Homo sapiens: one gene and its partners. The protein of the gene in region 1 interacts with the protein of each later gene in a biochemical or structural test. Each region holds a gene or a part of one and is shown in the gene's direction. Other genes may lie near its edges. The genes, in order: FGFR1, NOSTRIN and RPS6KA3.

The links.
Region 2: the proteins of FGFR1 (region 1) and NOSTRIN form a complex in vitro, tested with the Homo sapiens proteins (one study listed by IntAct).
Region 3: the proteins of FGFR1 (region 1) and RPS6KA3 form a complex in vitro, tested with the Homo sapiens proteins (one study listed by BioGRID).

Annotation. Positions count from the first base shown.
Region 1 is NC_000008.11:38,462,071-38,465,722, reverse strand, and holds part of FGFR1 (fibroblast growth factor receptor 1 isoform 1 precursor), read left to right. Parts: intron 1-3,652. UniProt on the Homo sapiens protein: Tyrosine-protein kinase that acts as a cell-surface receptor for fibroblast growth factors and plays an essential role in the regulation of embryonic development, cell proliferation, differentiation and migration.
Region 2 is NC_000002.12:168,847,614-168,851,265, forward strand, and holds part of NOSTRIN (nostrin), read left to right. Parts: intron 1-3,222; coding exon of another isoform or gene 3,223-3,393; intron 3,394-3,470; coding exon 3,471-3,569; intron 3,570-3,652. UniProt on the Homo sapiens protein: Multivalent adapter protein which may decrease NOS3 activity by inducing its translocation away from the plasma membrane.
Region 3 is NC_000023.11:20,155,410-20,159,061, reverse strand, and holds part of RPS6KA3 (ribosomal protein S6 kinase alpha-3), read left to right. Parts: intron 1-2,812; coding exon 2,813-2,953; intron 2,954-3,541; coding exon 3,542-3,652. UniProt on the Homo sapiens protein: Serine/threonine-protein kinase that acts downstream of ERK (MAPK1/ERK2 and MAPK3/ERK1) signaling and mediates mitogenic and stress-induced activation of the transcription factors CREB1, ETV1/ER81 and NR4A1/NUR77, regulates translation through RPS6 and EIF4B phosphorylation, and mediates cellular proliferation, survival, and differentiation by modulating mTOR signaling and repressing pro-apoptotic function of BAD and DAPK1.

The DNA of each region.
Region 1 (3,652 bases):
CCGTGGGACGCGCCTTGGTCTGGGTAATCACCCCCACGCCCGGGTCATCCACCTTCCTCTCGGTGACCGAGGTTCAGCAGCCTCTGCTATTGCCGGCCGTCTTTGCCGATGGCCTGCCTCCCTAATGACTTGTTTACATATCCTACCCCCAGTGGGTTAGGAGAAGCTCCGGGGCTGCCCCGACCCTCCGAGTGCAGGGTGTTTGGGGACCGGGAGGCTGCTGGGGCCTGACTCCAGCTGGGAGGGTTATGAACTGCATCAGTGACGAGCTGCTTGAAATATCTGTTGCATTTACTCTTAGTCATAGCTGAGTGTCAGCTTTTTAATGAGGTTCATCCAGATTGAGAGCCACTTGGACTGCGTACTTCACTGCCTGCTTTTCCAAACATGCCTGCAGAAATGCTCATTTTCGAGGTATTTTTCCCAATGGGAATTCAGGCCAGAGTGGGCACCACTTGAACAATCTTAGGGTGCTTCTTTTCCTTGGCCTCTGGCCATGGAGGGTGTTAGACAGTTCCATTAGGTGGCCCTTTGATAGCAAGGGAAGCAAAGGCTCAGGAAGAAATGGAGAAGCGTCCCCCACTCCCTAGGGGCAGAGGATTAGATACATCGGTGCATCCCTCAGGCTGGGCTAGCTTTATTCCTGGTGGACTCCAGAGGGCAAGAAAATTGAATTGAACACTGGGTAGGCAGATTCAAGCCTTAGAGACCAAGGAAAATCCATGGGTTTTGCTTTTAGTGGTGTGCTCTTTGTTTTCAGTATTGACCTGAAACAAGACTCCTAAAATGAGAGATTTGCTGGTATGAACTTGGGGGTTTAGCAGCCGGCTTCTACAAAGGCTTTTTTCTTGCCTTCGTTTCTAAAGTGTCTTTCGTCAAAATGGCTGTTAGTTATAGAACATCCTAGCAAAGTTTGAGCCTGTTGCTGCTGGAGGAAAAGGAGTTAGAATTGATTCAAATGTCTTATTCTGAAAGGGCCTCACATCACTTGATAGTTTAATTTCCTCCTGGGAAATTTGTGTCTTACATTTGTCTTCCCCAGAGCTTTGTAAAAGGCCTGAACGCACCAGGGACTAGTGGGAGCCCAGATGCAGAGCTTTAGAGAAGATTCTGGTGTTTCCAGAGAGGATGAAATGTCAGACTTGGGCTAGGATATTTGTTTTTCCTCCTAAGGTTGCATCTACTTTAAACAGAAATTCTCTCCTCGCCACCATTTATCTCTCCCCTGCAATGAAAGAAACCATGTTTAGGGCCCTCTCCCCCATTTAATAGCCCTCACATGGATGAACTATCCCAAGAATTTGGTGGGGTTCCACTCATAGTACATCCTGTCTTCAAGAGCAAGGTTTTCTAGATTATGTGCAGCAGTTCGTGTTTCACTTGTTGCTTTTTTTTTTTTTTTTTTTTTTTGAGATAGTCTCGCTCTGTCGCCCAGGCTGGAGTGCTGTGGCGCTATCTCAGGTCACTGCAACCTCCGCCTTCCGGTTGAAGCGATTCTCCTGCCCCAGCCTCCCTAGTAGCTGGGATTGCAAGCATGCGCCACCATGTCCGGCTAATTTTTTGTGTTTTTAATAGAGATGGTGTTTCACCATGTTGGCCAGGCTGGGCTTGAACTCCTGACCTCAAGCAATCCGCTGGCCTCGGCCTCCCAAAATGCTGGGATTACAGGTGTGAGCCATTGTGCCTGACCACTTATTGCTAATTTTTTATATGTCTCTTACTTCCAAGGACATTTAGACACTTTTTTTTTTTAAAGAGACTCAAAAAATTAGCATTTCCATTGGACCAACTAAAATTTAGCAAGCTGAGCTGAGTAACTTTCTCCATATGTTTATTAAGTACTTGCCCCCTGCCCTCTCAACATGTGAGTAGAGAATGGTCACTTTGGGGAAGAAATAAGTCTTATTCTCATCTGAAGGGATTAATGTTTTGGTGTTACTTCCTCAATTCTGAAGAACCAAGTTGTCCAGAAATTTTCTCAGGGTTCTTTGGACTAGAGTTTGGCTGGTTAACAAGGGGTACTACCTAATTGCTTTTCTCTGATATTCTCAGCCTCTTTTTCTGGAGGAGTATCTCTGTCAGTTTCTTTTCATCAGCCCTTTTTTTTCCTTCATTCACTTACTCATTCATCCAGTTAACAAACATGTTGGCATCTCCTGTGTACATGCTAGGTGCCGAGGGTGTTAGCAAAGGTTAGGGAGGCACAGACCCTGTTCTGAAGGAGCCTGCAGTTTCGTGGGGAGAGAAGAGAATGAAGAACATAAATAACAATCATATAATATGACCTAAGTGCTATGTGAGAGGGGCTAGTAATGTGGTTTGCAAATTTGGAGGAATGAAATTCTCCAGCTAGAAGGCCCAAGAAAGTCTTATGGAAGAAACAGCTTCTTAAGGTGGGGTTCAGAGAAAAGGGAAGGGCTGGCCTGTTGCAGAACAAGGAATGGCATGAAGAAAGTCTTGCACAGAGGCATGGATGTTGCTTCGAGCTGTGGCGCCCTATAGAAATAGAACATGAGCAGCTGGTCACAGTGGCTCATGCCTGTAATCCCAGCACTTTGGGAGGCCAAGGCAGGCGGATTGCTTGAGCCCATGAGATGGAGATGAGCCTGGACAACATGGTGAGACCCTGTGTCTACCAAAAAATACACAAATTAGATGAGTATGCTCGTGCTTACTGGTAGTCCCGGCTATTCAGGAGGCTGAGGTGGGAGGATCACTTGAGCCTAGGAGGCAGAGGCTGCAATAAGCTGTGATTGCACCACTGCATTCCAGCCTGGGGGACAGAGGAAGACCCTGTTTAAAAAAAAAAAAAAAAAAAAAGCCAGGCACAGTGGCTCATGCCTGTAATCCCAGCCCTTTGGGAGGCCAAGGCAGGTGGATCACCTGAGGTCAGGAGTTCAAGACCAGCCTGGCCAACATGGTGAAACCCTATTTCTACTAAAAATAAAAAAATTAGCCGGGCTTGGTGGCTCATGTCTGTAATCCCAGCTACTTGGGAGGCAGGAGAATCGTTTGAACCCGGGAGGCGGTGGTTGAGCCAAGATTGCGCCACTGCAACTCCAGCCTGAGTGACAGAGCAAGACTCCATCTCAAAGAAAAAAAGAAAGGAAGAAAGAAATATAACATTATAACATGAGTTATGTATATGTTCAGATTTTCTAGAAGCCACATTGGAAATTAAGTTAAAAGAAAGAAATAGGTAAAAAAAATTTTTTTTTTTGAGACGGAGTCTCACTTTGTTGCCAGGCTGGAGTGCAGTGGCGCAATCTCGGCTCACTGCAACCTCTGCCTCCCGGGTTCAAGCAATTCTCCTGCCTCAGCCTCCTGAGTAGCTGGGACTACAGGCGCGCGCCACTGCACGCAGCTAATTTTTGTACTTTTAGTAGAGACGGGGTTTCACCATGTTGGCCAGGATGGTGTCGACCTCTTGACCTCGTGATTTGCCCACCTCAGCCTCCCAAAGTGCTGGGATTACAGGCGTGAGCCACCGCGCCTGGCCAATATTTGTTTTTTAATTAACTTGTTTGTTTAGATTTTATTTAATGTAACTATATTTCCAAAATATTATCATTTGAACATGTAATCAATATAGAAATTATTGATGAGATACTTTACATTTTTTTCATAACAAGTTTTTAAGATGCGGTGTATA
Region 2 (3,652 bases), on another chromosome or scaffold:
ATTGTCATGATGCTTGGGCCCCAGACAGGCTCTAAATCTGCTGAAATCTGAATCTTTCTGGATAACTCCTTGACCACACTTTGTTCATATATACTATTGTGGAACCTCAAGAGGACAGTTTGAGGTCCTCCAGAGTATCTTGCTTCTCTACCACCTATTTTATATAAAAAGAACAAGATAATAAAAAGCAAAAAATCATTAGATATGGATCTCTCCTTTGCACAGTGGAATTTATTTCCTCCTCTTCTTATGAGCAAACATAGATCATTTTAATGATTTCCCTGAAATGTAATTAAAATCTGTTAAGCATTACCATGTCACTAAGGAACACTGGTTATTCTAGTCTCAGATTGATGCTAGTGGTTCAGCACTTGTCAAAGTAAAGAAACACCTGCCCACTAGGGATGCAATATGTTCTAAAACCTGGCTTTTATTTTCTCTTCTCTCTTGCTCATAGGCTAAAACAGAAGAGCTGATTTCTAGATCTTTTTCTATAGGGTAAGGACTTCTTCTTTTTGAAGATTGTCACATAGGAGATCCAAACAACTGAGCAGAATTTGTTTTACGTATTTGTTATGAGGCATATCGATTCTGCCTTTTAAGAAGCAAAACATTTGATAGGCTATTCTGTGTCTTTAATCCTTTATCTGGGAGACAGAAGGGCAGACGGCCACATTCAAATGACTGGTGCCTGCAATTTTGTGAAAGCCTCAGGGGACTGCCAGCGTAAACCAATCCATTTGACTCCCATTGACATATGAAAATTGGGCAGCTTCAGAGGCAACTAAGAAGATTGCCATGGGGGCGTGGCTCCAGGCTTCCAATCCAAATGTCAGGACACTTGATACAAAAGCTAAAGTTGCATGTGATTGGCACAGATGTTCATAGTTACTGCCTGAGCCTTTTACTACTTTCATTTGCAAGCAGTGTTCAAATGACTATATACCAAAAAACAAAATGTGGTATATGCATACCATGGAATATTATTCAGCCAAAAAGGAAGGGAATTCTGGCACATGCTACAACATGGATGAACCTTGCAGACATTATGCTAAGTGAAATAGCCAGATGCAAAAGAACAAGTAGTGTATGATTCCTCTTGTAAGAGGTATCAAGAGTAGTTAAATTTGTAGAGACAGAAAGTAGAATGGTGGTTGCCAGGGGATGCAGAGCGTAGGAAATGAGAAGTCGTTGTTTCATGGGTACGGTTTACTTTTGCAAGATGAAAAAAGTTTTAGAGATGAATTATGGTGGTGTTTGCATAATAATGTGAATGCACTTAATGACACTGAAATGGATGCCTAAGGTGGATAAAATGGCATGTCATATTATGTAAATTTTACCATAATTAAAAGTATAAAGAAATTTAAAATAATTTTAATCACCATATACCATAGATGAATTAACAACACAGGGATATAGAGGAATACCATACTGAATCAGGCCAATGGGCTCCTGTAGGAATTTCAAGAGGTGAGCAAGGAGAACCCAGTGATCTTTGTGACTCTCCATTCTCACCTCTCTTGCACTGCCAAGGGCCTTGAGACATACCCATCTTTCTTCTTCCCTATGGTCGTGTTACCCACCAACTTCTCCAAAGCCTTGTTCATGAAAGATGATTGCTGGTGCTCTTTGTGGGATGCAGGAGTTGGGATGGTGGGTATGAGAGCAACTGAGCTGGACTTCCCTGGATAAAAGGATGAATGCCCAGGCCTTGTATTTTTTCTTTCTTTCTTTCTCTTTCTTCTTTTCTTTTTTTTGAGATGGAATCTCACTCTTTTGCACAGGCTGGAGTGCAGTGGCATGATCTCAGCTCACTGCAACCACCACCTCCCAGGTCCAAGCGATTCTCCTGCCTCAGCCTCCTGAGTAGCTGGGACGACAGGCGCCCGCCACCAGGCCTGGCTAATTTTTGTATTTTTAGTAGAGACGGGGTTTTGCCACGTTGGGCAGGCTGGCCTTGAACTCCTGACCTCAGGTAGTTCACCCGTCTCGGCCTCCCAAAATGCTGGGATTATAGGCATGAGCCACCGCACCTAGCCAGGCCTTGTTTTTACAAAAAAAAAAAAAAAAAAAGATGGGAAGAATTTTGTCTTGGACACCTGCCATCTCCATCAAAGCCCAAAGTCCCCTGGGCACATACCCAGCAGCCTTACACTGCCCCCACATGGCCTTGGAGTCTCCCTGAATACTCTGCCTGAGCCAGCCTTCTCTAAGAATGCTTAGTTGCTAAAGCTTTCTGCCCCCTGTAAAACCACCAGTCAGCAACTCAGTTGGCATGGGTCCAATAAGTAACATTTTCTCATTTTTTTTTTTTTTTTGAGACAGTTTCACTTTTGTCACCCAGGCTGGAGTGCAGTAGCATGATCTCGGCTCACTGCAAACTTCACCTCCTGGGTTCAGGCAATTCTGCCTCAACCTCCTGAGTAGCTGGGATTACAGGCGTGTGCCACCATGCCTGGCTAATTTTTGTATTTTTAGTAGAGATAAGGTTTCACCATGTTGGCTGGGCTGGTCTCAAACTCCTGACCTCAGGTGATCCTCCCACCCTGGCCTCCCAACGTGCTGGGATTATAGGCATGAGCCACTGTGCCCGGCCTCTAAAATGTTAATAGCTAACAAAGCAAATGTGATTCCCCTCACTTTCTTATTTACCCTTCCTACCTAAAAGTCATAAGTCTAATAATGAAACTTCTGTCATCTCACACAAAATAAAGAGGCTATGTGTCTACCTGCAAACAGCGGACTCTGACTCCCAGGCCTAATTTTAGGCAGAATTATAAATTGGTCAGACTTTGGGATTCTTCTCTTGTCAAATAACCTCCTTAAACAGAGAATTTGTGGCCTGTCATTCTCTTCCCTGCAGACTAGCAGAACGCCTTGAATGTACTATAAACAATTCTAAAACTATTGGGTGTCTCAATGCATTTCCAAGACATGGATATGGGCTTTCCTGGGCTTCACCCTCTGGAATTCTTCCCAATTTTTTTTTTTTTTTTTTTGTAAAAACAAGGCCTGGCTAGGCGCGGTGGCTCATGCCTGTAATCCTAGCACTTTGGGAGGCCAAGACAGGTGGACCATCTGAGGTCAGGAGTTCAAGGCCAGCCTGCCCAACATGGTGAAACCCCATCTCTACTGAAATTCTCTGGAATTCTCTGGAATCCATGATTGTGTCTCAAATGCTTCCTTTTCTTCTTTTCTCCCCCTTCCTCATAAACTTAGGTAACCCACAGCATCTGCCTATATGCCTTTTGGGTCAAAAGAGCCTGGGGAAAGTGTGTGAGTGATTTAAGATACCAAGACACATTCCTTCCTGGAAATCTCCCTCCACTATGGTTTGGATATGACATAGTCAAGAGGCTAATCATGAGACTTTGTTCAGTCTGTCTTCAGGTGTGTCAGTGTTTGATGAGTGACTTCCATTTTGCATAACAACTGGCTGATCTTACCCCAATTTTCATTCTTTTCAGAGCATTCTGGAGCTGGAGAAGGAAAGAATTCAACTTTTATGCAATAACTTAAACCAGTACAGCCAACATATTTCTCTTTTTGGCCAAACCCTGACCACAGTGAGTAGAGATGATCTCTCCATTTCTGGTATGCCTGGTAAGAAGGGGCAGAAACCTTTCTTCGACAACCTTATTCTGTTCCC
Region 3 (3,652 bases), on another chromosome or scaffold:
TGGATGAGGGGTGGTATCCTTCACTGATTTGTAGAATACAAAAGAAGTAGTTTTGAGAGGAGTGGTGGTTGCAGATTTGGACATTATAAATTAAGAGATGTATGTCCATCAGGCAACTGTCTATATGGTTATAGGTCTTAAAAGAGAAGTCTGGGGTGACACTTAAGAGTTGTCATCATCCATAGTAGCTAAAGCCATGAATTTGAATGAGATTATCTGAGCAGAGTGTAAGAGAGCCAAGGAAAGAATTCTGGAGAGCACCACTTAAAGAGAAAGCTTAGGGGAGGAGTAGCCATTAAAGGGGCTGTAGTAAGAGAAGTAGTTTGAAGTGAGTTCACCAAAAGCTCATTAACGTATAGATTTGATTAAAATTATAATTGAGTTTTGTTGTACCCCTGGACAGTTTTGCAACCTTTTATGCAATTTTAAGCACTTTTGCCTACTTTCAGAATTGCAAAAGGGAGGTTCCTAATTTTTTTTATTTTTATTTCCAGCTCTGTTCAATTGCGTATCCCTGTTCTTAGCTGTTAATAACTAAAAGTAAGAAACCATAAATGTCTCATAGCAGAGGAGTACCTGGAACAACATCACGCTAATTCCCAAGATCTAGTTAACCACCAGATTCTGTCAGTTCTTTATCCTAAATACCTCCATTTCTCTCTCTCTCTCTCTCTTTTTTTTTTTTTTTTTTTTTTTGAGATAGAGTCTTAGTGTGTTGCCCAGGCTAGAGTTGCAGTGGTACAATCACAGCTCACTGCAACCTCCAACTTCTGGACTCTAGCTATCCTCCCACCTCAGCCTCCTGAACAGCCGGGACTACAGGCATGCACCACCACTCCCAGCTAATTTTTAAATTTTTTGTAGAGATGGAGTCCCACTACGTTGCCCAGGCTGGTCTCGAACTCCTGGGGTCAAGTGAGCCTCCCACTTTGGCCTCCCAAATTTCTCCCACGCCCAGCCCAATTTTCTCCATTACATACACCTCCCTGAAGCTGTCATCTTTCACCAGTCCATTTTCCTCCACACTCAGTGAATGTGATCTTTTTACTTAACCGCATCACTCCCTAACTTTAAACACTTTATTACCATCAAATAAGTCCACGTTTGCAAATATGGCTTACAGGGACTTTCCTGATCTGGTCCCTTCTCATCTCTCCCACTTTATCCACTGCCACATTCTCCTTCACGGTAAATTTATGCTGTAGCCGCATTGTACTGCTGCCAGTTCCTTAACTGTGTCGTCTTCTCTCCCACCTAAGAGCGTTCCTCCAAACTCACTCTCCATTCTCTCTACTCTACCTGAGGCAGTGTTTCCCCCTTCCTTTCTCTAATCTAGCTCCTGCTTATCCTACAGGTCTTATCTTCCTCTTAAAAAGTCCCTTTTAAGCCACCTCACACAGTACAGTCAGGTATCTCTGTGTCCCTCCAGCTGCACCTGGTGTTTGTTCATCCTGTCAAAGAACTTACTTGCTTTGTGATTATTGATTCTTTATCTCTCCTTCACTGAACTGAAAACTTCATGAAGTCAGAGTTCATTTTGTCTTTTTTTTTTTTTTTTTTGAGACAGGGTCTCGCTCTGTTGCCCAGACTAGAGTACAGTGGTTCAATCACGGCTCACTGCAGCCTTGACTTCCTGGGCTCAAATGATCTCTGCCTCAGCCTCCCAAATAGCTGGGACCTCAGGCATATGCCACCACACTCAGCTTTAAAAAAAAAAAAAATTGTAGATACAGGACCTCACAATGTTGCCTAGACTTCATTTCTGTGTTGTTCATTGCTAACTACCCAGTGCCTAGCAGAATGCCTGGCCTTTACTGGATACTTAACAAATGTATTTTGAATGAAAAATTTAAAAAATGGTGGCTTTTATAAATGACAGTGGTGTTATTTTGAAGAGTGTAAAACCATGTAGTGATTATATGCATCTACATTGCATGCATAGGAATGGCATTTAGATAGATATGCAGTGCTAACAGTGACTGTCTCTGGAAGAGTGGGATTATGGAACTGTTCCTCATGTGCTTTCACATTCCAGTATTTTCTGATTATTCTCTAATGCCCATGGGTTGCTTTTGAAGTAGGAAAAAAAATACTATAGTCTTTTCAGGGGGCATTTAGAGCCCTCCAATTAAATTCCTGTTATTGGACATTCATGTTTTTTTTTTTCAGTATTACCAGCAGCACAAAAAAAGTCTTAAGTAACTGAATATTACTTAAAAATAAACTGGCCAAGCACAGTGGTTCACATCTGTAATCCTAGCACCTTGAGAGGCTGAAGCGGGAGTAACACTTGCATCCAGGAGGTGGAGACCAGCCTGGGCAACATGATGAAACCCCATCTCTACTAAAAACATAAAAGTTAGCCAGGCATGGTGGCGCACACCTGTAGTCCCAGCTCTTTGGGAGGCTGAGGTGGGAGGATCACTTGAGGCCAGGAGACAGAGGTTGCAGTGAGCCAAGATCATGCCACTGCACTCCAGCCTGGGCGACAGAATGAGACCCTGTTTCAATAAATAAATAAACCTACAAAAATGTAGGAAACTCAGAAAATCTGAAGGAAAAAAGAGCCAGAGTACTTAAAGATATATAAAATGTGCTAAATTGACCCCTTGTGATGCACCAAATTACAGTTATTTAGCAGGGAAAAAGCGGAGACTGATTTTTTTTCCCCCAAATTACCATGTTGACCAAAGGGCTGCTACCAGAAAAAGCAGTATCACAGAAGCTAAGGAAGAATGTTCATTAGTATCAAGAGCCATAGAAAAAGAAGCAAAACAAAAGGTTTAAGCTTGTTTTATTATTCCCATTACAGGACCTGGTGTCAAAGATGCTTCATGTAGACCCTCATCAGAGACTGACTGCTGCTCTTGTGCTCAGACATCCTTGGATCGTCCACTGGGACCAACTGCCACAATACCAACTAAACAGACAGGATGCACCACATCTAGTAAAGGTGAGCAGCCCCATACAGTCACTGTTTTCCACAGGTCCTCCAGGAGAGACTTCAAGAAGCCCTGTCCATGCCCCCAGCACCTTTCTCTTTCATCCTGCATCCAGTTCTGTTGTGGGATTCTCTTACAGTGGGTGACTTCGAAAAGCTCAAGGCATATCAATATATTAGTAATAAAACTAGTTTAAGAGCGACTTTTGAATTCCTCTCAGTCTACATGAGTAGGTATTCACTATCAATAAGGACAGATTAAGCTTATGGATTTCCCAACTTAAAGAGCATGCCTTCCTGTCTCTTTAGTGCCTTTATGCATTAAAGGAATGCAAAGGGAAAAAATGTTGAATAGTCCTGAGAAAAGTGAGGACTGCCTGTTATGAGCCTATCTTTGTTCTCTCTCATACATAATTTTAACCTCCATGTTGGCCTCTACAGTTTTGGTTAAGTCAGTGGATTTGACCAGTGTGGTTATTTTCATTATGAACCAAATAAAATCTATGTACATTTGCATATGAAAAAACTCTTCATTTTGTATTTGTGTACGTGTGACTATCCATTGTCACTTTTGTTACTACCTTTATTTCCTTTGTTCAGGGTGCCATGGCAGCTACATATTCTGCTTTGAACCGTAATCAGTCACCAGTTTTGGAACCAGTAGGCCGCTCTACTCTTGCTCAGCGGAGAGGTATTAAAAAAATCACCTCA